Homo sapiens: one gene and its partners. The protein of the gene in region 1 interacts with the protein of each later gene in a biochemical or structural test. Each region holds a gene or a part of one and is shown in the gene's direction. Other genes may lie near its edges.

Evidence for each region.
Region 2: the proteins of S100A6 (region 1) and CEP43 form a complex in vitro, tested with the Homo sapiens proteins (2 studies listed by BioGRID and IntAct, with this or other methods).
Region 3: the proteins of S100A6 (region 1) and CSF3 form a complex in vitro, tested with the Homo sapiens proteins (one study listed by BioGRID).
Region 4: the proteins of S100A6 (region 1) and FKBP4 form a complex in vitro, tested with the Homo sapiens proteins (one study listed by BioGRID and IntAct).

Annotation. Positions count from the first base shown.
Region 1 is NC_000001.11:153,534,079-153,540,627, reverse strand, and holds S100A6 (protein S100-A6), read left to right. Parts: upstream 1-4,636; 5' UTR 4,637-4,679; exon of another isoform or gene 4,680-5,267; 5' UTR 5,268-5,288; coding exon 5,289-5,426; exon of another isoform or gene 5,427-5,724; intron 5,725-5,797; coding exon 5,798-5,932; 3' UTR 5,933-6,029; downstream 6,030-6,549. Other genes in the region: S100A5 (protein S100-A5), read left to right, coding at 423-574, 3,192-3,332. UniProt on the Homo sapiens protein: May function as calcium sensor and modulator, contributing to cellular calcium signaling.
Region 2 is NC_000006.12:166,995,027-167,002,396, forward strand, and holds the start of CEP43 (centrosomal protein 43), read left to right. Parts: upstream 1-4,370; 5' UTR 4,371-4,386; coding exon 4,387-4,488; intron 4,489-5,033; coding exon 5,034-5,087; intron 5,088-7,370. UniProt on the Homo sapiens protein: Required for anchoring microtubules to the centrosomes. Required for ciliation.
Region 3 is NC_000017.11:40,011,599-40,018,323, forward strand, and holds CSF3 (granulocyte colony-stimulating factor isoform b precursor), read left to right. Parts: upstream 1-3,841; 5' UTR 3,842-3,876; coding exon 3,877-3,916; exon of another isoform or gene 3,917-4,092; coding exon 4,093-4,247; coding exon of another isoform or gene 4,248-4,256; intron 4,257-4,634; coding exon 4,635-4,742; intron 4,743-4,886; coding exon 4,887-5,033; intron 5,034-5,196; coding exon 5,197-5,361; 3' UTR 5,362-6,215; downstream 6,216-6,725. UniProt on the Homo sapiens protein: Granulocyte/macrophage colony-stimulating factors are cytokines that act in hematopoiesis by controlling the production, differentiation, and function of 2 related white cell populations of the blood, the granulocytes and the monocytes-macrophages.
Region 4 is NC_000012.12:2,797,937-2,804,969, forward strand, and holds part of FKBP4 (peptidyl-prolyl cis-trans isomerase FKBP4), read left to right. Parts: intron 1-769; coding exon 770-890; intron 891-1,151; coding exon 1,152-1,308; intron 1,309-1,913; coding exon 1,914-2,004; intron 2,005-2,102; coding exon 2,103-2,186; intron 2,187-2,455; coding exon 2,456-2,641; intron 2,642-3,180; coding exon 3,181-3,420; intron 3,421-5,214; coding exon 5,215-5,322; 3' UTR 5,323-7,033. UniProt on the Homo sapiens protein: Immunophilin protein with PPIase and co-chaperone activities. Component of steroid receptors heterocomplexes through interaction with heat-shock protein 90 (HSP90).

The DNA of each region.
Region 1 (6,549 bases):
ATATCAGGTGATTCAGGCACTGGGGGAAAGGCTGGTGAACTGCCTGTGGAAAACCAGTTCCTAAGCTGGAAGAAGCAGAGAGAAAATCGTGACCCTTGATCTGCTCCACCATCTGCCACCAGGGCCTTTTGAGGAGGTCGTCTTCTCATCTTTCTGCCTCAGGCCTACTTTTCAACAACTCCCCAGCAGGAGAGTCTGTGGTCTCCTTTGGGGTCTTGCTGTTCTCCTTGTACCAGCAGCTCCAGAGTTTGTTGTGGGTCTCATTGTAACCTGTACTGATATAGATGGGCGCTCTTGTTAGTGGATTTCAGTCTCATCCTGGGTTCCAGTCTCTTGTTCTTTGAGGGAGGGGCCTCAGAGGTAGGCTAGTGCTGCTGGTGGTGACTTCCTGAGGAATGGGATCTTCCCCTCTCCCTCTACAGAGCTGCACACTGTGATGGAGACTCCTCTGGAGAAGGCCCTGACCACTATGGTGACCACGTTTCACAAATATTCGGGGAGAGAGGGTAGCAAACTGACCCTGAGTAGGAAGGAACTCAAGGAGCTGATCAAGAAAGAGCTGTGTCTTGGGGAGGTAGGTGATTGTTCCCTCATCCTCCACCCCAAAGTCTGAGTACTCCCTCTGGGGGACACATACCTACCCTCAGGATCCTCCAGCCTAAGCCAGGGGCAGGGTGGCCAAGGGCTACAGACAGAGACAAAGGAAGATGGTGGGGATTTCGGGCCAGCAAAACTCTAGCCCTCTGTGAAGGAGAATGGGTCAGGGTCTCACTGAGAAGGAGGAAGGGCTGAGTCTGGAGGGTTTAGAGAAGGAGATTGAGGAGCCTTCGATGGTGGGGCCAGGCTCTCCCAGCAGTGGCAGAACCTGTGCTAGGGGTCATGGGTGGTGAAGGGATGCAGGGTGTCCAGGTCCAGCTGTGTACAACTCAAGTGTAGGGACTCTGCCTGATTCTTCTCTGTGTGCACAGCATGGCCAGGGCTCTCTGATGGTGCTGGCACTCAAACTGAAAGGTTAACTTGTAAACATAGGGTAGTGAGGAGACAGAACTGGTTCTCACCAGATGGAGGTGGTGGGAGGGAGGTGACTGACAGAGGGGAAGGCCCATGAGGTTATTATAATACAATATCCCCGAGGATAAATAAATAAATAAATATATATATATATATATATATATATTTTTTTTTTTTTTTTTTTTTTTTTTTGAGAGAGTCTCGCTCTGTCACCCAGGCTGGAATGCAGTGACATGATCTTGGCTCACTGCAACCTCCGCCTCTCAGGTTCAAGCGATTCTCCTGCCTCAGCCTCTTCAGTAGCTGGGATTACAGGCACGCACCATCACGCCCAGCTAATTTTTGTATTTTTAGTAGAGATGGGGGTTTCACCATGTTGGTCAGGCTGGTCTCGAACACCTGACCTCGTGATCCATCTGCCTCGGACTCCCAAAGTGTTGGGATTACAGGCGTGAGCCACTGCGCCTGGCCAAGGATAAATATTTTTGAGACAGAGTCTCACTCTGTCACCCAGGTTAGAGTGCAGTGGTGCGATCATGGCTCACTGTAGCCTTGAACTTTCAGGCTCAAGTGATCCTCTTACCTCAGCCTCCTGAGAAGCTAGGACTACAAGCAAATACCACCACGCTTAGATAATTTTTAAAATTTTTTGTAGAGATGGGGTCTCACTATTTTACCCAGGCTGTTCTTGAACTCCTGGCCTCAAATGATCCTATCGCCTCAGCCTCCCAAAGTGCTGAAATTACAGGCATGAGCCACTGTGCCTAGTCTTATTATTTTTATAGTTAAAAAAAATCAATGCTCAAATACATCAAATAACTTGCCTAAGGACAATCCGCTAGTGGGAGGCTGAGCTGGAGTTCTGGGCCAGGCCTGTGAATCATCCTCCCTGTTTCCTTTAAAATTTAGCCTGGGTGCCTCTCCATCTATCACACCTTGAGCCCTGGTAGGCCCTCCCAGAAAGAAGGTCCACAGTGTGCCACATGGGCAGGGGACAGAAGCAGGTATGGGCGTCCCCAGGCCTGATCTCTGGCCTTCTGCCAGGCTGCCTGCATCCTGGAGGTTAATGAGGGCAGAGGGAGGGGCCACAGGTCCAGCAGGGATTAATTACAGAAGGAGAGACGCCCAGAGGAGGGCCTGGCAATAACAGGAGCCCAGGCTGGGGACTAGGATCACGTGACAGACAAGCAGTTTCCGCCTTTGTAAGTCCCAATGTCTCCTGTGAAAACCTGTAGCTGACGGCAATGATGAGGAGACATCAGGATCTGCTTGTCTATATTTTCTTCCTGTTCCACCCAAAGGACCCTGACTCCATCGTCCTAATGGAGCCAGGCTGGGACATCAGGGGACTGAACAACAGTGCACAACCAGGCTCCAGGCAGGCCTCTTGCACAGCTCTCCTAGCAGGGGAGGGATGCAGTGGCTTCACAGCCCCAGTGCACTGCTCTCATTGAGAGACATTTTGTCCGGGGTTATTCTCACCTAGTCCTTAGAATGGGGAGAGAGTCACTCAGAGACTTGGATAATGCTCAATGCCACATAATCAGCAAGGTGTTCTTTTTTTTTTTTTGAGAAGGAGTTTCATTCTTGTTGCCCAGGCTGGAGTGCAATGGCATGATCTTACTTACTGCAACCTCCGCTTCTCAAGTTCAAGCGATTCTCCTGCCTCAGCCTTCCAAATAGCTGGGATTACAGGGATGTACCACCATGCCTGGCTAATTTTGTATTTTCAGTAGAGACAGGGTTTCACCATGTTGGTCAGGCTGGTCTCGAACTCCTGATGTCAGGTGATCCACCCGCCTCGGCCTCCCAAAGTGCTAGGATTACAGGTGTGAGCCACCACACCTGACCCAGCAAGCTGTTTTTATCAGGTGTTGGTATAAAACCTAGATGATTGTTTCTTTGGCTGGGGGACAGTATTGCAGGGAAGGCAGGCTAGGCTAGCATTCCTGCTGTCATTTATTTCCATTCAGGAGTCAGGTCCCTGACCCCCTACCTCATGCCAGGCCCTTCCCTAGGTGTGGGCAGTGGGCAGACTCTGGGGGTCGAGATGCTGACAGTGTCATTGACTCAGCTGGGGCTCACCCTGAAGTTTCGGGGTGGGGATGACACCATGCAGTGGTGCGAGGGCAGGGCTGGGAGCGGGGTCTGAGCTGTCTCTCCACCTGGGTCCACAAAAGATGAAGGAGAGCAGCATCGATGACTTGATGAAGAGCCTGGACAAGAACAGCGACCAGGAGATCGACTTCAAGGAGTACTCGGTGTTCCTGACCATGCTGTGCATGGCCTACAACGACTTCTTTCTAGAGGACAACAAGTGACCAGGGCTGCCCTCCACCCTCACCCTCCACCCTTTGCTGCTGACCTCGGCTGCTCCTCTCACAGACCCTCTTTGGCCCCCTGCCCTCCTCTCCCTCCCAGATGGACCCTTCCATGGGAGGAAATAAAGTTTCCATCGCAGGTGCTGGGAGTCTGGTTTTGAAGCTGTCTTGTCTACCTTGGCCTGGGGAGAGGGGAGCACAGGAAGGGTCTCTCCTTGAGTGGGTTGAGACAGCTTCTGCCTCTGGGGGTTAGGGTCCTGGGCTCCCACTGCATTCCTCTCCTTCTTTGGTGTGGACGTCATTGGTTTTGTCATGGCTTAGTTTTGCCTGCCTGGAAAATGGGGAAGTTAGGCCAGGCGGGAACTCTGCAAGGATGCAGAGGAAGTTAAGAGGGAAAGTTGCTTTGAGAGGAGGACACTGGGAGGGGTTGGGAGTGGCTCCTGAGGGCGGTGATAGGCAGGCAGGCCTGACTTGTCCACAGCTCACCGGAGGCCACCTTGGCAGCACCTGTAGGAAGGGCATGTCTGGCCTCCACACCAGCCCCCTCCCTCTTCACCATTTCCCCTTCAATAGCACCACTCTCATCATCTATGGGGGACAGTGCTTTCTTCTCTCCCTGCCTCCTCCATCAAAATCTTTTCTCAGGGGAGGGTCTGAAAAGGCCTTCACTCCCCCGTAAATAACGAATGGTGCTTACAGGGCTGGGCTCCCACGTGCATGCACATTAACACCAAAGGTGCTGTAGTGAATGGAATTTGGGGCACTGAGGGGAAGGAGTGGAGGTGTTGGTAGGAACTTGTTGCTGGTGGGGGATGGGCGCCGTAGATATCCTTTACACCACTGGCTACTCCCCCTATCTCCTCTGGGGTGACCCTGAGTATCCTCTGTGGGACACCGGCATCCTGTGAGGCGCCCTCCTTGCCCACATTGACGCTGCGCTGGCTCGAGGGTCACATTCACGGTCTGGCAGAGGAAGCAGGGGTGACCGCCGCAGTCCTCCTCCTGCTCCCCTTGCCGAGTCACGTGTCACGAAGAGCAAACTGAGCAAACTGAGCTGCGCAGATGAGGGGAGACTCGTCACCAGGCGTGCAGTGGGCACTGCTGGGCTCCCCCATCCCGTCCTAACCCGGAACAGCCCCGGGCAGGAGGCGTGGAAAGTCGAGGGGGTAAACCGCGAATGTGCGTTGTGTAAGCCACGGCGCAGGGTGGGGCGCGGGCGGGACTTGGGCGGGCGGGGTGGGCTTGGCCGAGCTGGCCTCCGGGGCACCGACCGCTATAAGGCCAGTCGGACTGCGACACAGCCCATCCCCTCGACCGCTCGCGTCGCATTTGGCCGCCTCCCTACCGGTGAGTTCTCTCCAGGAGCCCTGGGTACTTTCCAGGGCCAGCTGCCCTCACGCTGGGGGTCCAGCCATCCCCTGCCCAGTTCAGCCGCTGGATCCAGACTGGGGCCATCTGTGGCGCTCCCCCGCTGGAGGGATAGTCAGGAGCAGCAGTGCTGTGCCAGGCAGGCCTTGGGCTAAGGGATCGCAATGGGGTGTGCTCTTTTGGGGTGCGGAAGGGAGTGCCCTGGGTGTGTCATTGCCACCATGTGTGGCCCTGTGAAGCTGTGTTTAAGCTGCCTTTGCAGCCTCCATTCCCCTCCCCTGCCCAGCCATACTCCTCAACTTCTGGATCCCCTGAAGGACAGTTCTCAGCTGTGCCCAAAGCTACTGTTCCTATATGCTTCTTAGAATCCTTAAGCCACCTCTCTTGCCTTGGCCCTAGTGTGCTCTCTCCTTCCCCTTCAAGCCCTGGGCTGTCTCCTGATGCCATTGTGTGTGGCCTGAGACTGGGTGGTTCCAAAGGAGGCGGGGCTAGTGCAGGCAGCATTATTGGGGTGTGTGGGTGAGAAGTCCTTGCTCCCATGGCACTGACTAGGCCCTCTGCTGCCAGCTCCAAGCCCAGCCCTCAGCCATGGCATGCCCCCTGGATCAGGCCATTGGCCTCCTCGTGGCCATCTTCCACAAGTACTCCGGCAGGGAGGGTGACAAGCACACCCTGAGCAAGAAGGAGCTGAAGGAGCTGATCCAGAAGGAGCTCACCATTGGCTCGGTGAGTGGCCTCCTCCCCAGGACCCCTTTTCCCACCCTTGTCCTTTGGAAGCAGGATTAGGGGAGAGAGAGGTGCCAGGTGCATCTGACTCACATTTACCCACATTCTGAGGCCCTGGTCCACATGTAGACCCTGAGCTGTAGACCCACTCTCCCAGCGGGTAGGGGATGCTTCCAGCCGGATATCCATCTCTCCAAATGAGGACCAGTAACTGAGAAGTAGCTGAGGAGAAGCAATGCCAAAGTGACATGGGTCCTTGGTGATGAGGGAGCACAGAGCCACTTGCAGAGAGGATTGCCTGGGAGGGGGAAGGGGAAGAATCCAGGGTTGTCATCACCACTGAGTATGGATTTCACATTCTAACACATTAGAAGCTGCAGGATGCTGAAATTGCAAGGCTGATGGAAGACTTGGACCGGAACAAGGACCAGGAGGTGAACTTCCAGGAGTATGTCACCTTCCTGGGGGCCTTGGCTTTGATCTACAATGAAGCCCTCAAGGGCTGAAAATAAATAGGGAAGATGGAGACACCCTCTGGGGGTCCTCTCTGAGTCAAATCCAGTGGTGGGTAATTGTACAATAAATTTTTTTTGGTCAAATTTACCCTTGCGTCCTGGCTTCCGAATGATTTCTGTTCCTCCTTGGCTTAGTGGGACACCAGCCATTGGAAGATTTGCTCACGGTCAACCTCTGAAAATGACTCATTGACTCGCCAGGCCAGAGGACCCACCCTGACAAGGCTGCCTCTAGCACATAAGGTGCCTTTATGTGAATGAGGAGAGATGCCCCTCTTGGCAACGCCATCCTAAGGAAAGGCTCAAGTGGTTTCCAGTAGAGAGAGTCCTGGGATGAGCTTGGAGATGGAAATGGTCCCTGGGCCGGGATGTGATGGGGTTTGGGGGCCTGGAAGTGAGGCAGAGATAGTCCCAGAGGCTCCCAGATGTGTTTTGCTCTGGGTGTGGCAAGAGGGGCCCTGGGGTGGGGCAAGTCCCCTTTCTCATCACAGCGCAGGGGTTAGATAGGGCACATCTGAGATGCCTGAGGCTTGGCTCAGGGAGTTTCCTACACCAGTGAGGACGCTGTGTGACTGAGTCTACTGCGGCTGCCCAGGTCCCAGGTGGAG
Region 2 (7,370 bases), on another chromosome or scaffold:
ATGATTTCCTTGATTGGCTCTGTCATAAATCCTGTGAAGTGATGCACAACATCTGGAGTTCCTCCAGCAGGAATTTGTTTGGGCTTGATGGCTTTTCATGGTTTTTTCTGAAACAACAATGGCATCTTCAATGGTGTAATCCTTTCAGACGTTCATGATATTCTCTCAATTGGGGTTCTCTTCCACAGAGTACTGTGTGTAATGATCCTTAAAGTCCTTATGACTCCCTTATCTAGAGGTTGAATTAGAGGTGTTGTGTTTAGGCGCATGTAGACCATTTCAATGTGTTTGTATTGAACTCATGGGGTTCTGGGTGGCCAGGGGCATTGTCCAATATCAAAAGAACATTAAAGGCAATCCCTTACTGGCAAGGTACTTCCCGACTTTAAAAACAAAGCATTTATATAACTGATCCAGAAAAAGAGTTGCTGCTCAGCCATCTTGCTGTACAACCAAAAGAGTGGCAGGCAGTGTTTCTTTTCCCTTCAAGGCTCAATTTTATAGATAAGGGCAGTCCTGATCATACATCTGGCTGCATTTGCACAAAACAGTACAGTTAGCCCATCCCTTCCCGCCTTGGATCCTGATGTTCACTTCTCTTCCTAATAAATATCCTCTGTGGCACTATTTTCCCCCAGAATAGGGCATTTTCGTTTGCCTTAAAAACCTGTTCAGGCAGATATCTTTTCTCCTCAGTGATTTTCTCTATTTTTTTTTATTTTTATTTTTTATTTATTTTTTTTTGAGAGAGTCTCATTCTGTCTCCCAGGCTGGAGTGCAGTGGTGCAATCTCACTGTAACCTCTGCCTCCTGGGTTCAAGCGATTCTCATGCCTTAGCCTCCTCAGTAGCTGGGATTATAGATGTGCACCACCACACCTGGCTAAATTTTGTATTTTTAGAAGAGACAGGGTTTTGCCATGTTGGCCAGGCTGGTCTCGAACTCCTGGCTTCAAGCAATCCACCCACCTCAGCCTTCCAAAGTGCTGGGATTACAGGCATGAGCCACAAAGCCTGGCCTTTTGTCCTCAATAATTTCCTTAATGGTATCTGGGAACTCGTCGGCTGCATCTGGGTCAGCAGAAGCTGCTTCTCCTGTTATCTTGACATTTTTTGAAAGCCAACCCACTTTTTAAAATTATCATACCTTCCTTCATCTTCCTTTTGCTTTGTCAGATAATGACTTCACTTTTTCTTGAATATTAGATTATATAGGTATGCCTTTCTCATAGCAATCCTGCACCCACAAAAAGCTGCATTTGCAATATGAGATAAAAAGGTATTTCCCAAAAAGTGCAAGGTTTTCATGCTTGTTGGTGTAGCTGCAGCGATGGCTTCATAAACTTCCTTTTGTTTTTATACCACAGTCCTTATACTGGATTCATTTATCTTAAAATGGCAGGCGACCTTAGCTGCAGACCTCAATCTACAATACACAGCAAGCAATTCCGCTTTTTCTGTAATGTCATTAACTTTTCTCTGATTCTTGGGAGCATTTCCAGCACCACTAGCGGCACTTCGTAATGGTCCCATGGTGTTACGCAAGGTTTACAGTACTGCAGTGAACACAACGAGAAATATGTGAGAACCTCAAGAGCTTACCTTTTACTGTGATATGCAATGTACTGGAGAGATCAACTGCTCACTCAGAGATGATTATGTTACTTGGAATTTTTAGCCAATACCAGCAACACTGACGCTCACTGCAATAGCAACAGGAGGTGGCTACAAAATCATTACAGTAGTACTCTATGTACTACAGTGAATTTGATGCAGTTATTATTTAATATTGCATCTTTACAACTGTTTACACCTCTCTTGAACCTAATGGGTGCCATGTAACTGTCTGTTTGTACGTGTAAGTTTTGATAAATTTTAACTTTTTATAACAGGCTTGTATATATTTTATGATAGTAAATAATAAAATGGCCTAGTATCTACATATATTTTATGCATTCATGACATATCTAGCTTTTTCTTTTCTTTTTTTTTCCATATTTCTTGGCTAAGCGACTCATCTGTGAGGTTTTTCACAAAATTGTTGCCATCGCCAAAAATATTCCATTTACTGAAAAAAATCCACATATAAGTGTACTCACGCAGTTCAAACTAATGTTGTTCAAGAGTCAACTGTATAAAAGGTATTAATATGTCTGGAAAGAGATATGTTTCCAATTTAACAGACACTACCAATGAGAAGAGTTGGGCTAGGCAGGAAACTTCAAATTTTCCTTTTTTACTTTATATATTCTATTTGTATCTCAACTTATAACCTGTGGACCACGTTTATTAGAAGAAAATGCAGATTCCTGAAACTTCCTGCAGACCCCATGAGTGACAATCTCAGGGAGATGGAGTTCCAGAATCTGCTTTTTTTCATAGATGTTTCTTTGCCATTCCTGTGTATATCTGAGTTTCAGTAGCACTGCTAATCAATTGTTTGGGGTTCTCTCTCCTTCACCAGCATGTTCTTGCAAAACTAACCAAACACATATAAAGCGCAAACAGTACAATAGTGCACTGCACCTTCATGACCCTTACCTGTTCCAGCCTCTTCCTACCTCTTCCACATGTGATATGTGTGTACATACCCACAGACAGAAACACAGAGACATGTTTGGAAGCCAGTGTGGATGCCCTGTGATCTGTGTGTACACATGACAAGTGCATACACACGCACATAAAGGAACCCAGAGACGTGTTTGGAAGCCAGTGTGGACACCCTGTGATCTGTGCGTACACATTTGACACCTGCGTACACACTCACAGACAGAAACACAGAGATGTGTTTGGAAGCCAGTGTGGACATCCTGTGGTCTGCGCGTACACATGTGACAGGTACGTGCACGCCCACATACAGGAACACACAGAGGCCTTTGGAAGCCAGCATGGGCAGACAGGCCCTATCCCAAAGCGGCCGGCAGGCGTCTCCTAAGAATGGTTCTCGGACACACCTCTGAAAGGAAAATACAACTCGGCACCGCAGTTGACTCGGCCAAAGGAAAAAAACTTAAGCTGAAAGCTGAGGCCTGCCCGAAGGAGCCTTTCCTGTGGCGCCTGAGCCGAGGGCTTCAGGGAGAGGGCCGCGCATCGCAGCGCAGCCGCCCGTCTTCCCGTGGCTTCCCTACGGCCGCGGCTCCCGCTGCTCCTTTCCGCCGGCCACGCGGGTCGCACGACCTTCCCCTCCCGCCCACCCTGAGGCGCTGAAGCCCTCGACGCCGGCCTCGGGAAAGGCGCGGCCACCGCCCGTTTCGGATTCCCGTTTCCTTCCTCCGGGCGCGTCCTTCACCGTGGCCAAATCAGCCTCTCAACTGCTGGAGCCCGGCCTCGGACACTTCTCGGCTTACGCCGCCATACAGTGGCGCACCCCGAAACCCCGGAACCGACAGCTCGGCTGGCCTTGCGCACCCACACTCTCCAAGGCAGGGCTCGGTCCGGGGGCTGGTTTTGCCAAGGCGAGGGGCGAGGGGCAGCCCAGGCGGCCGGATGGATACCAAGAGGGCGCGTCAGCTCCGGCGGGACGGGGCTTCCAGGGCCCGGGAGGGGTCCAGGACTCCCCGCCGGCGCCTGGCTGTCGGCGGAGGGCCGCGGGGCAGGAGGGAGTGGAGACTGCGGCCCCAGTTCGGGCAGCGCGGAGCCCACCCAACGCCCTCCTCGGCCCTCGGCTCTTCCTGGGGCCATCCCGCCCCTGCACCTCGGCCTGGCACCTTTCCGGTTAGCCTCGGAGGCCGTGGCCGAGCAGGGTGCGTTCGCCTGGCTGGGGGGCCTCAGAACGTTATTTCCGGGTGACAACCTGCAGGGCCTTCCGCCCCTCGCGACCTCTCGGGAGTCCCTTCCCCGGCGCCCCCCCGGGGCTGCAGGGGCTGCAGGTTCGGTCTCGGGGCCTCCTTACCGCAGTCCGCCCGGCTTTAGGCTAGTGGGCTTTAACTACGTCGATAATATGACTCCGGCGATCTTGTGCGGCGATGGGATGCGGCCGTGGGCGGTGGAGTCCAGGCGGAGTCCGCTCTCCACACGCGAGGGCGCCTCCTCCTCACCGCTCGCCGGCTTCAAAGCTCGCGCCTCAGGCGACGGCAGCCAACGGGTTGCCGGCTGGAGGCCCCGCCGACGCCCCGCCCCTTGCGTGCCCACCCGCGCCCCGCAGCCCCGCCCCCAGCGCCGACCCTAAGTTTCGGCGCTCAGTGGTCCGGCGCTCCCCAAGGCTCGGTGTCCAGCGTCAACCCCGAGGTCTCTATGCCCCGCCTCCCGACGCCAGGGGGCAGGGCCAGCGCGCTGCGCGTCGGGGCGGGGCTTTGGCTGCGTCGGCCGCGTAGCCCGCGCGCGGAGCGTACCCTGCTGCGGCCGTTGGCCGTTAGCGCGGCTTCGGCGGTTGTCTTGGAGAAGCAAGATGGCGGCGACGGCGGCCGCAGTGGTGGCCGAGGAGGACACGGAGCTGCGGGACCTGCTGGTGCAGACGCTGGAGAACAGCGGGGTCCTGAACCGCATCAAGGTGAGGCCGGAGGCTGGGGCCGGGCCTGGCGGATCCGCAGGGCTTGCGTGGACAGCGGGCGTCACAACGGTCGCGGCGAGGAGGCCGCCTCCCTGGCGAGGGACCGGGGCCGGCGGGCACTGGGGGCGCGCCCCGGCATGGCCTCCGTCCTGCCCGCCCCACAGAGGGGGTCGGCTCGTTCGTTCGTGTGGTCCCGGAGGGCACCGCGGACTGGGGGTGCCTGGCCCATCCCCTGCCTCATTCCGTGGGGGCGGGACCGCGGGGCTTGGGGGCCACACGGGCGGCCCGCAGCTGGGCCCTGGAGTGCGGCCCCAGCGTCTCTTCCTCAGGCTCGGGCATGATCCGCGGCGGGAAAGCAGCGCGTCCAGCCGAAGCCTGGGGGTCGGAGAGCTTGTGTGACTGAGAACGTTTCGGAAGGCGTTTCTGACCTTTGCACCTGCCCTCCCAGCTCGTTGGCTTGCTCGTGTTTGTTGCTGGATAAATGTGAGCTTGTTGTGAAAATTGTCTTGAAATTATAATTTCCTGTTTCTTAACTTTTTTTTAAGGCTGAACTCCGAGCAGCTGTGTTTTTAGCACTAGAGGAGCAAGAAAAAGTAGAGGTATGAAGTTTCCAGATTTTAACATGGCTGTATTCGTTAATACTTAATTTCTTATTCATTAAAAACCGTCTTAAAAATAGTTTATAGTAACATATAGCTAGGGATAATTTTGAACTGTTAAGGATTACATTACTATTGAGAGAGAGCCAAAATTATTCTTTTTTCGTGTAGCTTTTGAATTTGGGGGTAATCTTAAGGTACCACAGTAACTCTGATACTAATGCTTAATCTGAAACAAATGGTCATAGGAGTTTCTTGAAGAAATGGTGCCATTGTCAATGTGTTAAGTGCAGGTTCACTCAGATCCTTTAGTAAGCTAATATGTTATTAATCCCTATGAAACGGGGTATATAGTATGCAACTTTTCCCAAAATTATCTGACCACTCAATTATTTTGACAATGAAAAAGACAGCGATTATTTTAAAAGTGCAGCCACTACTCTATATTTAAGTGGGTAATTTAACTTTTTCGGAGTCCCACCAACCATCCTGAGTAAATATTCTGGAATTTGTCAACAAGAATAGAACCATCATCAAAGCCTTAAACTCTTGCTGTATGACAAATCAGTCTACTGTCCTCTCACTTCTTTAGACCTGTATACCTAATCTCTAATTTCATCAAAATCTTCAGTTCTTTGCCCTTTCCATGTCTGTGCAGGCATCAGTCTTCTCTTGGCAGCATTTTGCTCTGGACCCTATGGGTCTGGACCCCTAATTACCTTGCCTTAACGGTCATACGTGGTCTGGAAGAAATCTCAGTGGTCATTTAACCCAGCAAACTAACTCTTCCCACTTTGCACATATGTGCTCTTGGAGAAGAGTCAGTCAATCCTGTGGATTGCTGATGTTGCAAATTGGCAGGTACCAACCTGGTTAGGTCCTGAGCAGGCCCAGCAGCTCTCTTCTTCACCCTAGCTGTGCAGTAGCCTTCTATGTCACCCCTGCTTCCTTCTCTCTGAACACATGGTCTTGTTGCTTCCTCCACAGGGAAGGTAGAAGCCATTAGATCCTAACTTTATGTCCTCCTCTCCTGTCCCTCAATCTATTGCTCACCTGTGAAAATGCTTACCTGTGTCTATGTTTATCTGTACCTCTTTCCTTACTGCTTTAGAAGAAGAGGCTCTGTCCTGTCCAAGAATAATCACTCTGTCTTGTGTATACTTTCAAGTCTTTAATTATTTACTGTATCTTTGACCCCTTCCTTTTCTGATGGCTTTTCTTTTGAGCTTGAAAACATGTTTAAATAACTATTAGGAGTAAACTGTTTTCCTTTACTCACATTCTGCTTTTAATACCGCTGTGGTTTTTTTCCTTCACAACCTGGTTTTGACCACTCCTTGGTTTCTTTAGCATGATCTTTTTCCTGTACACCTGACTGAGACTTATCCACAGTTGTCATTCTGTACTGTCTCACAGACTGACCTTATTCATCCAGTAACTCCAGCCCTGTAACTTTCATGCATGTTTCTTTCCCGAGCTTCAGACCTGTATGTTAAACTGCCCACTGTATTATGCCCTTAATGGGACCATCATTTATCTGGCAAGAAATCTAAGCGTTTCTTAGGCCTTGCTCTTCTTTCCACCTGCTCAGCCATCACCTGGCTCTGTGTCTGTCAGGTGTGTATCTGAAGTGTCCCCAAGGGAGTGCTCTGCTGCCTCCTTTGTGCTTGTTTCTTCTTTTCCAGATTGCCTTATCCCCTTCCTACTTGCCAGTCTCCGTTTCCGTGGTGTCCCTCACCATCTCCCTGAAGTCCTTTTTCCACATTGCTCCTAGATTGGCTGTTTATAGTACACATCTGATCTGTCCCTCCATTCTCTTAAAATATTTCAGTTGACTCCCTATCTTAGAATTCCCTGAACCAGCCTACCAACTACCTTGAGGATCTCTCCTCTCCTTGTCTTTTATTTTAACAACTTTATTGAGGTAAAATTGACCTATAGTAAAGCTAAAGTATTTAATATGTACAATTTGATTTTTAATAGTTAATTTATGCAGCTGTGAAATGATCATCACAATCAAGGTACTGCGCATATCCTTCAAACTTTTGACCTTCAAAAGTTTTCCTTGTGCCCCTTATGTAACCCTCTCCCCCACCCCAAACCTTTTTAAGAATTATATAAATGGAATCGTATAGTAGGTACTCTTTTTTTTTGGTCTGTTTCTTCAACATAATGCATTTGAAATTCATTCATGTTGTGGTATGTATTAATAAATCATTTCATTAATACATTGTACAGATATGACAGTTTAGCCATTACCTGCTGACAGACATTTAGGCTGTT
Region 3 (6,725 bases), on another chromosome or scaffold:
AGGTTTGTAAACACACCAATCAGCACCCTGTGTCTAGCTCAGGGTATGTGAATGCACCAATCGACAGTCTGTATCTGGCTACTTTCATGGGCATCCGTGTGAAGAGACCACCAAACAGGCTTTGTGTGAGCAATAAAGCTTTTATCACCTGGGTGCAGGTGGGCTGAGTCCGAAAAGAGAGTCAGCGAAGGGAGATAAGGGTGGGGCCGTTTTATAGGATTTGGGTAGGTAAAGGAAAATTACAGTCAAAGGGGGTTTGTTCTCTGGCGGGCAGGAGTGGGGGGTCGCAAGGTGCTCAGTGGGGGTGCTTTTTGAGCCAGGATGAGCCAGGAAAAGGACTTTCACAAGGTAATGTCATCAATTAAGGCAAGGACCCGCCATTTACACCTCTTTTGTGGTGGAATGTCATCAGTTAAGTTGGGGCAGGGCATATTCACTTCTTTTGTGATTCTTCAGTTACTTCAGGCCATCTGGGCGTATATGTGCAAGTTACAGGGGATGCGATGGCTTGGCTTGGGCTCAGAGGCTTGACAGCTACTCTGGTGGGGCCTTGGAGAATGTTTGTGTCGACACTCTGTATCTAGTTAATCTAGTGGGGACGTGGAGAACCTTTGTGTCTAGCTCAGGGATTGTAAACGCACCAATCAGCGCCCTGTCAAAACAGACCACTCGGCTCTACCAATCAGCAGGATGTGGGTGGGGCCAGATAAGAGAATAAAAGCAGGCTGCCCGAGCCAGCAGTGGCAACGGGCACAGGTCCCCATCCACAATATGGCAGCTTTGTTCTTTTGCTGTTTGCGATAAATCTTGCTACTGCTCGCTTTTTGGGTCCACACTGCTTTTATGAGCTGTAACACTCACCACGAAGGTCTGCAGCTTCACTCCTGAAGCCACTAAGACCACGAGCCCACCGGGAGGAATGAACAACTCCGGCCGCGCTGCCTTAAGAGCTATAACACTCACCGCGAAGGTCTGCAGCTTCACTCCTCAGCCAGCGAGACCACGAACCCACCAGAAGGAAGAAACTGCGAACACATCTGAACATCAGAAGGAACAAACTCCAGATGCACCACCTTAAGAGCTGTAACACTCACTGCGAGGGTCCGCGGCTTCCTTCTTGAAGTCAGTGAGACCAAGCACTCACCAGTTTCGGACACAAGCCCAGGAGTTTGAGATCAGCCTGGGCAACATGATGAAATGCCCTCTCTGCAAAAAAAAAAAAATTACAAAAATTGGCGGAGCATGGTGGTCCGTGCCTGTGGTCCCAGCTACGCGGGAGGCTAAAGTGGGAGGATCGCTTGAGCCTGGGAGGTGAAGACTGCAGTGAGCTGTGATTGTACCACAGCCCTCTAGGCTGGGGGACAGACTGAGACCCTGTTTCCCCTCCGCAAAAAAATTGACAAAAGTGTAATAAGAGGTGCCTGATATGGCTAGGCGCAGTGGCTCATGCCTGTAATCCCAGCACTTTGGGAAGCCGAGGCGGGCGGGTCACCTAAGGTCAGGAGTGTGAGACCAGCCTGGCCAACATGGAGAAAGCCCATCTCTTCTAAAAATACAAAATTAGCCGGCTGTGGGGGCAGTGGTGGAGCATGCCTGTAATCCCAGCTACTCAGGAGGCTGAGGCAGGAGAATCACTTGAACCCAGGAGGCGGCGGTTGCAGTGAGCCGAGATCGTGCCATTGCACTCCACCCACTCCAGCCTGGGCAACAAGAGCCAAACTCTGTCTTAAAAAAAAAAAAAAAAAGTGCCTGACATATAAGAGGTGTGCAATGCAATAGTTGCCAGGCAACATGTTTAAGAATGTGGAGCTCCTGCCTTCCATGGTCCTGTTAAAAACCCACCCTCAAGGCCAGGTGCAGTGGCTCATGCCTATAATCCCAGCACTTTGGGAGGCCGAGGCGGGTGGATCACCTGAGGTCAGGAGTTCGAGACCAGCCTGACCACCAACATGGTGAAATCCCACCTCTACTAAAAATACAAAATTAGATGAGCATGGTGGTGCATGCCTGTAATCCCACCTACTTGGGAGGCTGAGGCAGGAAAATCACTAGAACCAGGGAGGCGGAGGTTGTAGTGAGCCGAGATCGTGCCATTGCACTCCAGCCTGAGCAATGAGCGAAACTCCATCTCAAAAAAACAACAACAAAAACCCACCCTCTACTCCCAGGGAGCTGGGTACAGAGCTGGGCCACATCAGTGCAAGGTGCTGAGCCACAGAGCTAAGGCGGAGCTGCAGGACCGCGGACCAGATAACAGTGTGTGAGATCAGTGTGTGAGATCAGACGTCCCTGCCATTGGTGACCACCAGGGGGCCCCCAAGCACCAGAGATGGCCCCATCCAGTCACCACATCCACTTCTCATCCAGAGATGTCTGTTTCTTGGCACGCTGGGGTAAATTAGGACAGAAGGTGACAGTCTTGGGTGTGGTCAGTCAGACTGCCCCAGGCAGGCCTTGTGGCCTGTAGAAAACGTTCAGGCCTAGGCCGGGCACGGTGGCTCACGCCTGTAATCCCAGCACTTTGGGAGGCCGAGGCGGGTGGATCACGAGGTCAGGAGATCGTGACCATCCTGGCTAACACGGTGAAACCCCGTCTCTACTAAAAATACAAAAAATTGGCCGGGCATGGTGGCGGGCACCTGTAGTTCCAGCTACTCGGGAGGCTGAGGCAGGAGAATGGCGTGAACCCGAGAGGCAGAGTTTGCAGTGAGCCGAGATCGCGCCACTGCACTCCAGCCTGGGCGACAGAGCAAGACTCCATCTGGAAAAGAAAAAGAAAACGTTCAGGTCTGAGCCAGAGGCCCAGGCTGTAATTCTGTCACTTACCATGACCTTGGGCAAGGCACTTCCTTCCCTGGCCCAGTTCACGGGGTTGGAATCGACTCCAAGGTCCCTTCCAGCATTAACGCTGCATGGTTCTAAGATGAGAAGATGGGGCAGTTTCCCCTCTCTCACCCCAGCCCGTGTCCACTTCAAGGTGAATGACCAGGGAAGTCACGTGTCCCAATCCCGCAGTTCCAAAGCCCTTGGGGACCCTACTGTCAGGGTCGTGCACGAGGAGGTGAAGGTCAGGTGAGCCAATCGCCTCGAAGGGTCTTGCCTCATTCGGGACAGACATCCGGTTTCCTCTGGCTCTACCGGGATTCTAGGGGCTTTAGCCGAATGAGTCATGGGGGGCGGGGGGGTTTCTGGGGGAGTTCCCAGCTAATCAACTTGGGACAGGACAGCCTGGAACTTTCGATGGTGCCTATCCAAGTGTGGGGTGGGCACAGCAGCCAAGACCCAATGTCCTTATCTCAGGTAGGGGCTCAGGAGGTCTCCCAGACAGGCAGCCTCCGGAGAGTTTGGGGGTAGGAATGGGAGCAACCAGCTTCTTTTTTTCTCTCTTAGAATTTGGGGGCTTGGGGGACAGGCTTGAGAATCCCAAAGGAGAGGGGCAAAGGACACTGCCCCCGCAAGTCTGCCAGAGCAGAGAGGGAGACCCCGACTCAGCTGCCACTTCCCCACAGGCTGCTGCCGCTTCCAGGCGTCTATCAGCGGCTCAGCCTTTGTTCAGCTGTTCTGTTCAAACACTCTGGGGCCATTCAGGCCTGGGTGGGGCAGCGGGAGGAAGGGAGTTTGAGGGGGGCAAGGCGACGTCAAAGGAGGATCAGAGATTCCACAATTTCACAAAACTTTCGCAAACAGCTTTTTGTTCCAACCCCCCTGCATTGTCTTGGACACCAAATTTGCATAAATCCTGGGAAGTTATTACTAAGCCTTAGTCGTGGCCCCAGGTAATTTCCTCCCAGGCCTCCATGGGGTTATGTATAAAGGCCCCCCTAGAGCTGGGCCCCAAAACAGCCCGGAGCCTGCAGCCCAGCCCCACCCAGACCCATGGCTGGACCTGCCACCCAGAGCCCCATGAAGCTGATGGGTGAGTGTCTTGGCCCAGGATGGGAGAGCCGCCTGCCCTGGCATGGGAGGGAGGCTGGTGTGACAGAGGGGCTGGGGATCCCCGTTCTGGGAATGGGGATTAAAGGCACCCAGTGTCCCCGAGAGGGCCTCAGGTGGTAGGGAACAGCATGTCTCCTGAGCCCGCTCTGTCCCCAGCCCTGCAGCTGCTGCTGTGGCACAGTGCACTCTGGACAGTGCAGGAAGCCACCCCCCTGGGCCCTGCCAGCTCCCTGCCCCAGAGCTTCCTGCTCAAGTGCTTAGAGCAAGTGAGGAAGATCCAGGGCGATGGCGCAGCGCTCCAGGAGAAGCTGGTGAGTGAGGTGGGTGAGAGGGCTGTGGAGGGAAGCCCGGTGGGGAGAGCTAAGGGGGATGGAACTGCAGGGCCAACATCCTCTGGAAGGGACGTGGGAGAATATTAGGAGCAGTGGAGCTGGGGAAGGCTGGGAAGGGACTTGGGGAGGAGGACCTTGGTGGGGACAGTGCTCGGGAGGGCTGGCTGGGATGGGAGTGGAGGCATTACATTCAGGAGAAAGGGCAAGGGCCCCTGTGAGATCAGAGAGTGGGGGTGCAGGGCAGAGAGGAACTGAACAGCCTGGCAGGACATGGAGGGAGGGGAAAGACCAGAGAGTCGGGGAGGACCCGGGAAGGAGCGGCGACCCGGCCATGGCGAGTCTCACTCAGCATCCTTCCATCCCCAGTGTGCCACCTACAAGCTGTGCCACCCCGAGGAGCTGGTGCTGCTCGGACACTCTCTGGGCATCCCCTGGGCTCCCCTGAGCAGCTGCCCCAGCCAGGCCCTGCAGCTGGTGAGTGTCAGGAAAGGATAAGGCTAATGAGGAGGGGGAAGGAGAGGAGGAACACCCATGGGCTCCCCCATGTCTCCAGGTTCCAAGCTGGGGGCCTGACGTATCTCAGGCAGCACCCCCTAACTCTTCCGCTCTGTCTCACAGGCAGGCTGCTTGAGCCAACTCCATAGCGGCCTTTTCCTCTACCAGGGGCTCCTGCAGGCCCTGGAAGGGATCTCCCCCGAGTTGGGTCCCACCTTGGACACACTGCAGCTGGACGTCGCCGACTTTGCCACCACCATCTGGCAGCAGGTGAGCCTTGTTGGGCAGGGTGGCCAAGGTCGTGCTGGCATTCTGGGCACCACAGCCAGGCCTGTGTATGGGCCCTGTCCATGCTGTCACCCCCAGCATTTCCTCATTTGTAATAACGCCCACTCAGAAGGGCCCAACCACTGATCACAGCTTTCCCCCACAGATGGAAGAACTGGGAATGGCCCCTGCCCTGCAGCCCACCCAGGGTGCCATGCCGGCCTTCGCCTCTGCTTTCCAGCGCCGGGCAGGAGGGGTCCTGGTTGCCTCCCATCTGCAGAGCTTCCTGGAGGTGTCGTACCGCGTTCTACGCCACCTTGCCCAGCCCTGAGCCAAGCCCTCCCCATCCCATGTATTTATCTCTATTTAATATTTATGTCTATTTAAGCCTCATATTTAAAGACAGGGAAGAGCAGAACGGAGCCCCAGGCCTCTGTGTCCTTCCCTGCATTTCTGAGTTTCATTCTCCTGCCTGTAGCAGTGAGAAAAAGCTCCTGTCCTCCCATCCCCTGGACTGGGAGGTAGATAGGTAAATACCAAGTATTTATTACTATGACTGCTCCCCAGCCCTGGCTCTGCAATGGGCACTGGGATGAGCCGCTGTGAGCCCCTGGTCCTGAGGGTCCCCACCTGGGACCCTTGAGAGTATCAGGTCTCCCACGTGGGAGACAAGAAATCCCTGTTTAATATTTAAACAGCAGTGTTCCCCATCTGGGTCCTTGCACCCCTCACTCTGGCCTCAGCCGACTGCACAGCGGCCCCTGCATCCCCTTGGCTGTGAGGCCCCTGGACAAGCAGAGGTGGCCAGAGCTGGGAGGCATGGCCCTGGGGTCCCACGAATTTGCTGGGGAATCTCGTTTTTCTTCTTAAGACTTTTGGGACATGGTTTGACTCCCGAACATCACCGACGCGTCTCCTGTTTTTCTGGGTGGCCTCGGGACACCTGCCCTGCCCCCACGAGGGTCAGGACTGTGACTCTTTTTAGGGCCAGGCAGGTGCCTGGACATTTGCCTTGCTGGACGGGGACTGGGGATGTGGGAGGGAGCAGACAGGAGGAATCATGTCAGGCCTGTGTGTGAAAGGAAGCTCCACTGTCACCCTCCACCTCTTCACCCCCCACTCACCAGTGTCCCCTCCACTGTCACATTGTAACTGAACTTCAGGATAATAAAGTGTTTGCCTCCAGTCACGTCCTTCCTCCTTCTTGAGTCCAGCTGGTGCCTGGCCAGGGGCTGGGGAGGTGGCTGAAGGGTGGGAGAGGCCAGAGGGAGGTCGGGGAGGAGGTCTGGGGAGGAGGTCCAGGGAGGAGGAGGAAAGTTCTCAAGTTCGTCTGACATTCATTCCGTTAGCACATATTTATCTGAGCACCTACTCTGTGCAGACGCTGGGCTAAGTGCTGGGGACACAGCAGGGAACAAGGCAGACATGGAATCTGCACTCGAGCAGCCAAAGCCTGGCAGGGAAGACAGAGGCACAGGGACCATGGGAACCCGGAAAGGAGAGGGCATGGGGTCTGGGTGGGCTTAACAGGCCAGACACAGCCAGACAAGATGAAGCCAGGGAGTGCTGAGCATCTGCACCAGGCTTGTCATTTACCATCTTCCATAAACTTGAGCCCATCCATCAAGTTGCCCACAAAGTGGAAGCCAAGTTCAAGGTGACCACTGGGGTCAGAGCTTCTCTCCTCAGACTCGG
Region 4 (7,033 bases), on another chromosome or scaffold:
CCCTCCAGCCCTTCCTGCTTCTTGGAGACAATGTAGCCAAGGCTGAGGGTCTGGCCTTATGGGAGGAGAAATGCAGAGGGCTCTGCTGCTGCTAGTAATGGAAGTAATAGAAGCTTCGGGTGGGAAGAGGCAGGCACAAGCCCCTCTCCAGACTCAAAGCATGGTCAGGGTTAAGGCATCTTTATCTCCAGAGCGGTACCCAGAAGAATACTGAAAGGAGTCGGGATGTCAGAAACTATGTCCCGTTATAAATGGCAGTACAGAATATTGGTGCTCTAGAGACCAGAAGAGGGAGCAGTAGCTCCCCTGTGGGTCAAGGGCTGAGAAAAGGCTTCACTGAGGAGATAGAACTTGACATTGTTCAATCTGAAAATGGTTGAGCCAATCCGTGGGCCCTTGAATACTGAGAAACTGCTGAGAGATGTTGGGTAATCATTTCTAATACCTACCAGGTTGGGCTTATCAGGTAGTGTGAATTAGGATTATCTGGGACGCGTCCTGATATGTCCGTGTTAGTAGAGCAGGTAGCAAATAGATTGCTCTCCTCAGCTTAACTGAAATCTATGTAGTCTGCCCACCTCTACCAAAGTTGAGATTAGGGCAGCTCCCAAGAACTGAAAAAAAGTGCCACTCTACCCAACTCCTTGTGACTGCCCTTGTGGTCAGATCCGGCCTGGCAGTTAGTAGGGACTCTCTCGGATGAGAAAGATTGTGTTTCACTGCCCATGAGTTAGCATGGGAAGGAATTGTGTCACATCTTGTCCCACAGGTGGAGTTGTTTGAGTTTAAGGGAGAAGATCTGACGGAAGAGGAAGATGGCGGAATCATTCGCAGAATACAGACTCGCGGTGAAGGCTATGCTAAGCCCAATGAGGGTGCTATCGTGGAGGGTGAGACAGTACAGTCTGGGCTTTCAATTCTCATTCTGATATTTAGGCCTTGTGTGGCTTTGGGCAAGACACTTCCGTTCTCCGAGCCTATCTTCTTGTCCATAAAATGAGGGGTTGGACCATATTCTCTTCATATCACTCCAGATTTGAGAACACAGGAGAATCTTGGGATGATGGGGGTGATGCAGGGAGGCTGATGGCATCCTTCCTCAGTCACCTGCCCTCTTACAACTCTGGTACACTGCCTCTCTTTCATGCCAGTTGCACTGGAAGGGTACTACAAGGACAAGCTCTTTGACCAGCGGGAGCTCCGCTTTGAGATTGGCGAGGGGGAGAACCTGGATCTGCCTTATGGTCTGGAGAGGGCCATTCAGCGCATGGAGAAAGGAGAACATTCCATCGTGTACCTCAAGCCCAGGTGAGGGGTGGGCACTTCGTAGGGTAGGCAGGCAGGCAAACCAAGATCAAAGATATAAAATGAATTGTAGAACCAGCTGTTTGTATCCTTTTTAACTCTGGCCACACCAAACATACACCATTATGATATCCTCAGTGTACTTAGAAGTATGGCCCAATTGTCTACATCTCCTTGGATCTAAGCCCAGTCTTTTCAGTCATAGTTGCTACAGATTCTCTCCTCTGCCATCAAGATTTTCCTCTCCCATTAATTCATTTCAGTCATTACTGAAACAGCTACTACATGCCAGGCACTGCTGAAAATTCCTATAGGGCTTCAGAGACTAATAGAACATTGTTTCTGCCTTCTAATTCTAGCTCATTGTTTAGTGAGGTGCTATTTAAATTAGTAATCACACTGCTGCCTGGCTGTAAGTTATTAGAAGGGTATGAAGGATGCTGAGGGACCATCTGACAGTGTGAAGAGGCCAGGGAAGATTTGCCAAACATTTGAACCAAGTCTCAAGGGATGGGAAGGTACTTTCCAGGAAATGGACAGGAAGCCTTTTCAGCCTGGAGCAGGTTAAGTGTTGCCAAGATGATACATAGTGTTTTTCACCCCTCCAGCTATGCTTTTGGCAGTGTTGGGAAGGAAAAGTTCCAAATCCCACCAAATGCTGAGCTGAAATATGAATTACACCTCAAGAGTTTTGAAAAGGTAAGTTTGCTCAGGGTCTTCCCATCTAAAGTCAAGTTCCACCCTGTACGTGACTCTGGGGTAGCTGACAACTTTGTTTCTCTCCTGGGGTGTGGCAGGCCAAGGAGTCTTGGGAGATGAATTCAGAAGAGAAGCTGGAACAGAGCACCATAGTGAAAGAGCGGGGCACTGTGTACTTCAAGGTGAGCCAACAGTCATTGTCCTAAGGACACTCCCAGGAAGAGTTGCTCTGAGCCTCCCCTTCCCTTGGTGACTGAGATCATTTTCTGCCAAGAAGTGGACAGGTTGGCACCTGCCATCTTCACTTCATATATGTGAGCTTGCTGGCCTTGCCAGTGGGAAGGGTGGGAGCAGGAACCTCTTGTGGCCATGTGTCACTGATGTCTGCAGGGTATAAGAGCCTAGTACCACTGAAACTGTGCCAGGTGCCTGAGCCTCTCTCCCATTCCAGGAAGGTAAATACAAGCAAGCTTTACTACAGTATAAGAAGATCGTGTCTTGGCTGGAATATGAGTCTAGTTTTTCCAATGAGGAAGCACAGAAAGCACAGGCCCTTCGACTGGCCTCTCACCTCAACCTGGCCATGTGTCATCTGAAACTACAGGCCTTCTCTGCTGCCATTGAAAGCTGTAACAAGGTGAGGCCCCCTCAGAGGTCATGGAAGCAGCATTCACAGGCAGAGTTGGGTGAGCTGCCAGCATGTCTGAAACTTCCCCTTGGTGACTAGGGCAGGGATAGCAGGGTGGATCAGTGGGAGCTCTGAGGTTACAGACCAAAGGCACGGATGCAAGTATTCATAGCAAGAACCTTAGCTTTGGTGGGAAGCAGTTGGCAAGAAGGAGGAGGACACGGAATGGGAAGAATCACATAAAGAGTTTTCTTCCACCTTGGTTCTTAGCCTCTCCGCTTACCTACTTGCTTTATTCTAAAGTGAATGTTAATGTCTGAAGTCTTTATTTCATCCAAAGACCTGCTGTCTTCCCTCTCTGCCTGTTGGATTAAATGAGGTCCCTGGATTGTTCCATTTAATGCCTCAGGCCTTGTTCTTCCTGGGGTGCAGCCAGCCACTTGCATTCCTCCTCATCCTCCTGAGGGGTACCTTTGGAACCCAGTCTAGGCCAGATGAGCTACAAGCCCTGAGCTCCCACAATGTGGCTTCCTCTCTGCATTCTTTAGGCCCTAGAACTGGACAGCAACAACGAGAAGGGCCTCTTCCGCCGGGGAGAGGCCCACCTGGCCGTGAATGACTTTGAACTGGCACGGGCTGATTTCCAGAAGGTCCTGCAGCTCTACCCCAACAACAAAGCCGCCAAGACCCAGCTGGCTGTGTGCCAGCAGCGGATCCGAAGGCAGCTTGCCCGGGAGAAGAAGCTCTATGCCAATATGTTTGAGAGGCTGGCTGAGGAGGAGAACAAGGTGAGGATTGGGGTGGGGAACAGTTGGAATAGCATCCCTCCACTTAACCTGGCTACTGTGGGCTCTTTGTGCCTTTGGTTGTCTGTGCCAATCCCGGAAACCAGAAGTTGCCTTTTCCCTGGAGCATTAAGGAGCACGTGTTCCTGCTGTTGGGGCCAGTGTTCTGTGATCAGTGCGGGAAACCTACCCACAAGCCCCAGAAGTTGGGTTGGTTGCCCTGAGTGTAATTCCCGATTTATGTTTTCTTGTGGGCCAGGCGCCGTGGCTCACACCTGCAATCCCAGCACTTTGCAGAGCCAAAGTGGGAGGATCACTTGAACCCAGTAGGTAGAGACCTCAGTGACTTAGGATGGCACCACTGCACCCCAGCCTGAGTGACAAAATGAAACCCCATCTCAAAAAAAGAAAAGCGAGATGCTTTTTGTGTGTGATTAAATAAATAATACACTTAGTTAAATTCAAACTGTACCAAAGTATACAGTCAAGTCTGCCTCCCCCACCAGAAGCAGCTGCCCCTTCAGGGTCTTGGATGGTCCAGTGTATTGCGTCAAGGCACAGGCAGACGTTCCTGTTGCTTCCTCCCTTTCCCCTAACACAGGCAACGTGCTCCACCTATGATTTGGCGCATACTATGCTTTTTTCACGTAATAGTAGCTGGAGGCTTATTTTACATCCGTATTTAAAGAACTTTTACATTCTTTCTTAGGCTTACATTGTATTCCATTGTATGGATATGGCTTGTCTTAGTCAATCAGTCCCTTTTTAGTCTTCCAGTGGTTTTATTTTTTTTCTTTTTCTGAGACAGAGTTTCGTTCTTGTTGCCCAGGCTGGAGTGCAATGGCATGATCTTGGCTCACTGCAAACTCCACCTCCTGGGTTCAAGCGATTCTCCTGCCTCGGCCTCCCGAGTAGCTGGGATTACAGGCGCCCGCCACCACACCCGGCTAATTTTTGTATTTTTAGTACAGACGAAGTTTCATCATGTTGACCAGGCTCTCGAACTCCTGACTTTAGTGATCTGCCCACCCCTGCCTCCCAAAGTGGTGGGATTACAGGTGTGAGCCACCACACCCAGCCAGTCTTAAACAGTGTTCTAAACCAGCACTGTCCAGTAGAAATACAGTATCAACCACATGTAATTCAAAATTTTCTGGTAACCATGTTAAAAAGGTGAAAAACAAATGGAATTAAATTTTAGTTGCATTTGTGTATTTTTCAAACCATCTTCAAAATCCAATGTATATTTTGCACTAAAAACACGAGTTTGAACTAGCCACTTACAGTAGTGGCTACCATACGGGACAGTGCTGCTTAGAACAGCATTGCAGTGAATAACCTCATGAGTTCATAATTTGTACATATACAAGTGTTCTGTTTTGTTTTGTTTGAGACAGTGTCTCTTGCCCTGCCGCCCAGGCTGGAGTGCAGTGGCACAGTCTCAGTTCACTGTAACCTCTGCCTCCAGGGCTCAAGTGATCCTCTTGTCTCAGCCTCCCGAGTAGCTGGGACTACAGGTGCATGCCACCACGCCCAGGTAATTTTTGTAATTTTTGTTGAGATGAGGTTTCACCATGTTGCCCAGGCTGATCTCAAACTTCTGGGCTCAAGCAATCTGACCACCTCAGCCTCCCAAAGTGCTGGGATTACAGGCATAAGCCACCAGGCTTGGCCTATACAGGTATAGCTTTAGGACAGATGTAGGAGAATGGGTGTATCTGTGTAATTCTGCTGGAAATTAAGTGTGTGTTTTTTCACTTGGGAAGTCAGCCCGTTTGCTGTTCATCTTCCTTGCAGGCCAAGGCAGAGGCTTCCTCAGGAGACCATCCCACTGACACAGAGATGAAGGAGGAGCAGAAGAGCAACACGGCAGGGAGCCAGTCTCAGGTGGAGACAGAAGCATAGCCCCTCTCCACCAGCCCTACTCCTGCGGCTGCCTGCCCCCCAGTCTCCCCACTCCACCCTGTTAGTTTTGTAAAAACTGAAGAATTTTGAGTGAATTAGACCTTTATTTTTCTATCTGGTTGGATGGTGGCTTTAGGGGAAGGGGGAAAGGTGTAGGCTGGGGGATTGAGGTGGGGAATCATTTTAGCTGGTGTCAGCCCCTCTTCCCTTCCTCCATTGCACATGAACATATGTCCATCCATATATATTCATCAGAATGTTAATTTATTTTGCTCCCTCTGTTAGGTCCATTTTCTAAGGGTAGAAGAGGCAAGTGGTAGGGATGAGGTCTGATAAGAACCCAGGGTGGAGAGGGAGACTCCTGGGCAGCCGTTTTCCTCATCCTTTCCCTCTCCCAGTCCATTTCCAAATGTGGCCTCCATGTGGGTGCTAGGGACATGGGAAAAACCACTGCTATGCCATTTCTTCTCTCTGTTCCCTTCCTCACCCCCGACGGTGTGGCTGATGATGTCTTCTGGTGTCATGGTGACCACCCCCTGTTCCCTGTTCTGGTATTTCCCCTGTCAGTTTCCCCTCTCGGCCAGGTTGTGTCCCAAAATCCCCTCAGCCTCTTCTCTGCACGTTGCTGAAGGTCCAGGCTTGCCTCAAGTTCCATGCTTGAGCAATAAAGTGGAAACAATAAAACCTGGGTGTCAGACAACCCTTTCTGTTCAGCCTTGGAGTGGTGGGTATGGGTGGGTACATAATGGGTAGTAGCACAATCAAGGGGTCACCCACTTAGTTCCAGTTGAGCTTAAATAAGTGAGCATCTCATGTAGATGCCATAGTTGGGCAGGAAGCAGCCCCACCATGCATGGCTTCCTGAGCACTGCACAGGCTGCCGCTGGGATTTGTGTCTATGGCTTCGCCCAAGGTTCCCAGCACTCCCTCCCTCCAGCAACCTGGCAGTTTTAGTGCCTCTGGTTTTCTTCCCTGACACTTAGGAAGACGAAAGTATAAAGATCTAGAAGACTGGGACACCATGCATGTTCATTTTGAAGTTGGAATTGGTCTTCTGCCTACCTCTGATCTGGCAGAGGTATCTGCATTTTGGTTTGTTAACAAGGTAAAACTCCTGGTGTCACTGACCTCCTCCTGTCAGATAACTTACATGATTAAGGTTAAGAGTAAAGCAGAGTGTTCACGTCCAGCTTCCTTCTCAGCCTTAACAGGAAAAGGCTTGTGCTTTTTTTCTAACTATGCTTTGACCCTTAACTCCTATGGCATGATGGGGCCCTGGGAGAAGCCAGGCAGCACAAGCCAGTCATGCTGAGCTGCCTCCAGATAATCCTGGCTCCAGGCCAGAGCCCGTGTCTGCCCTCATCCCTCTCTCCTACTGTGAGCTCTCCAGTCCTTTCCCAACAGCGATGTGGTTGTCTGCTTAGCCACATGCCTGTATAGTTCCTTCCAGAAGAAATGTATAATGGTGGAAGATGTATTTCTGTGTGAAAATTTTCACCAAGTCATACAACACAGCTGATGCTGGAGCCAGGATTAAAATTGGGGTGTACAAGTCTCCCAGTGTGAGTATCCCTTGAGCCCAAGACACCAAGGATGCAGAGAACTGTGACTGTGCCACTGCACGCCAGCCTGGGCAAGAGAGTGAGACCATCTCTTTTTTAAAAAAGTCCCTGTGTAACTGCTTTCTTACTGGGCTTACCTCACATCACAG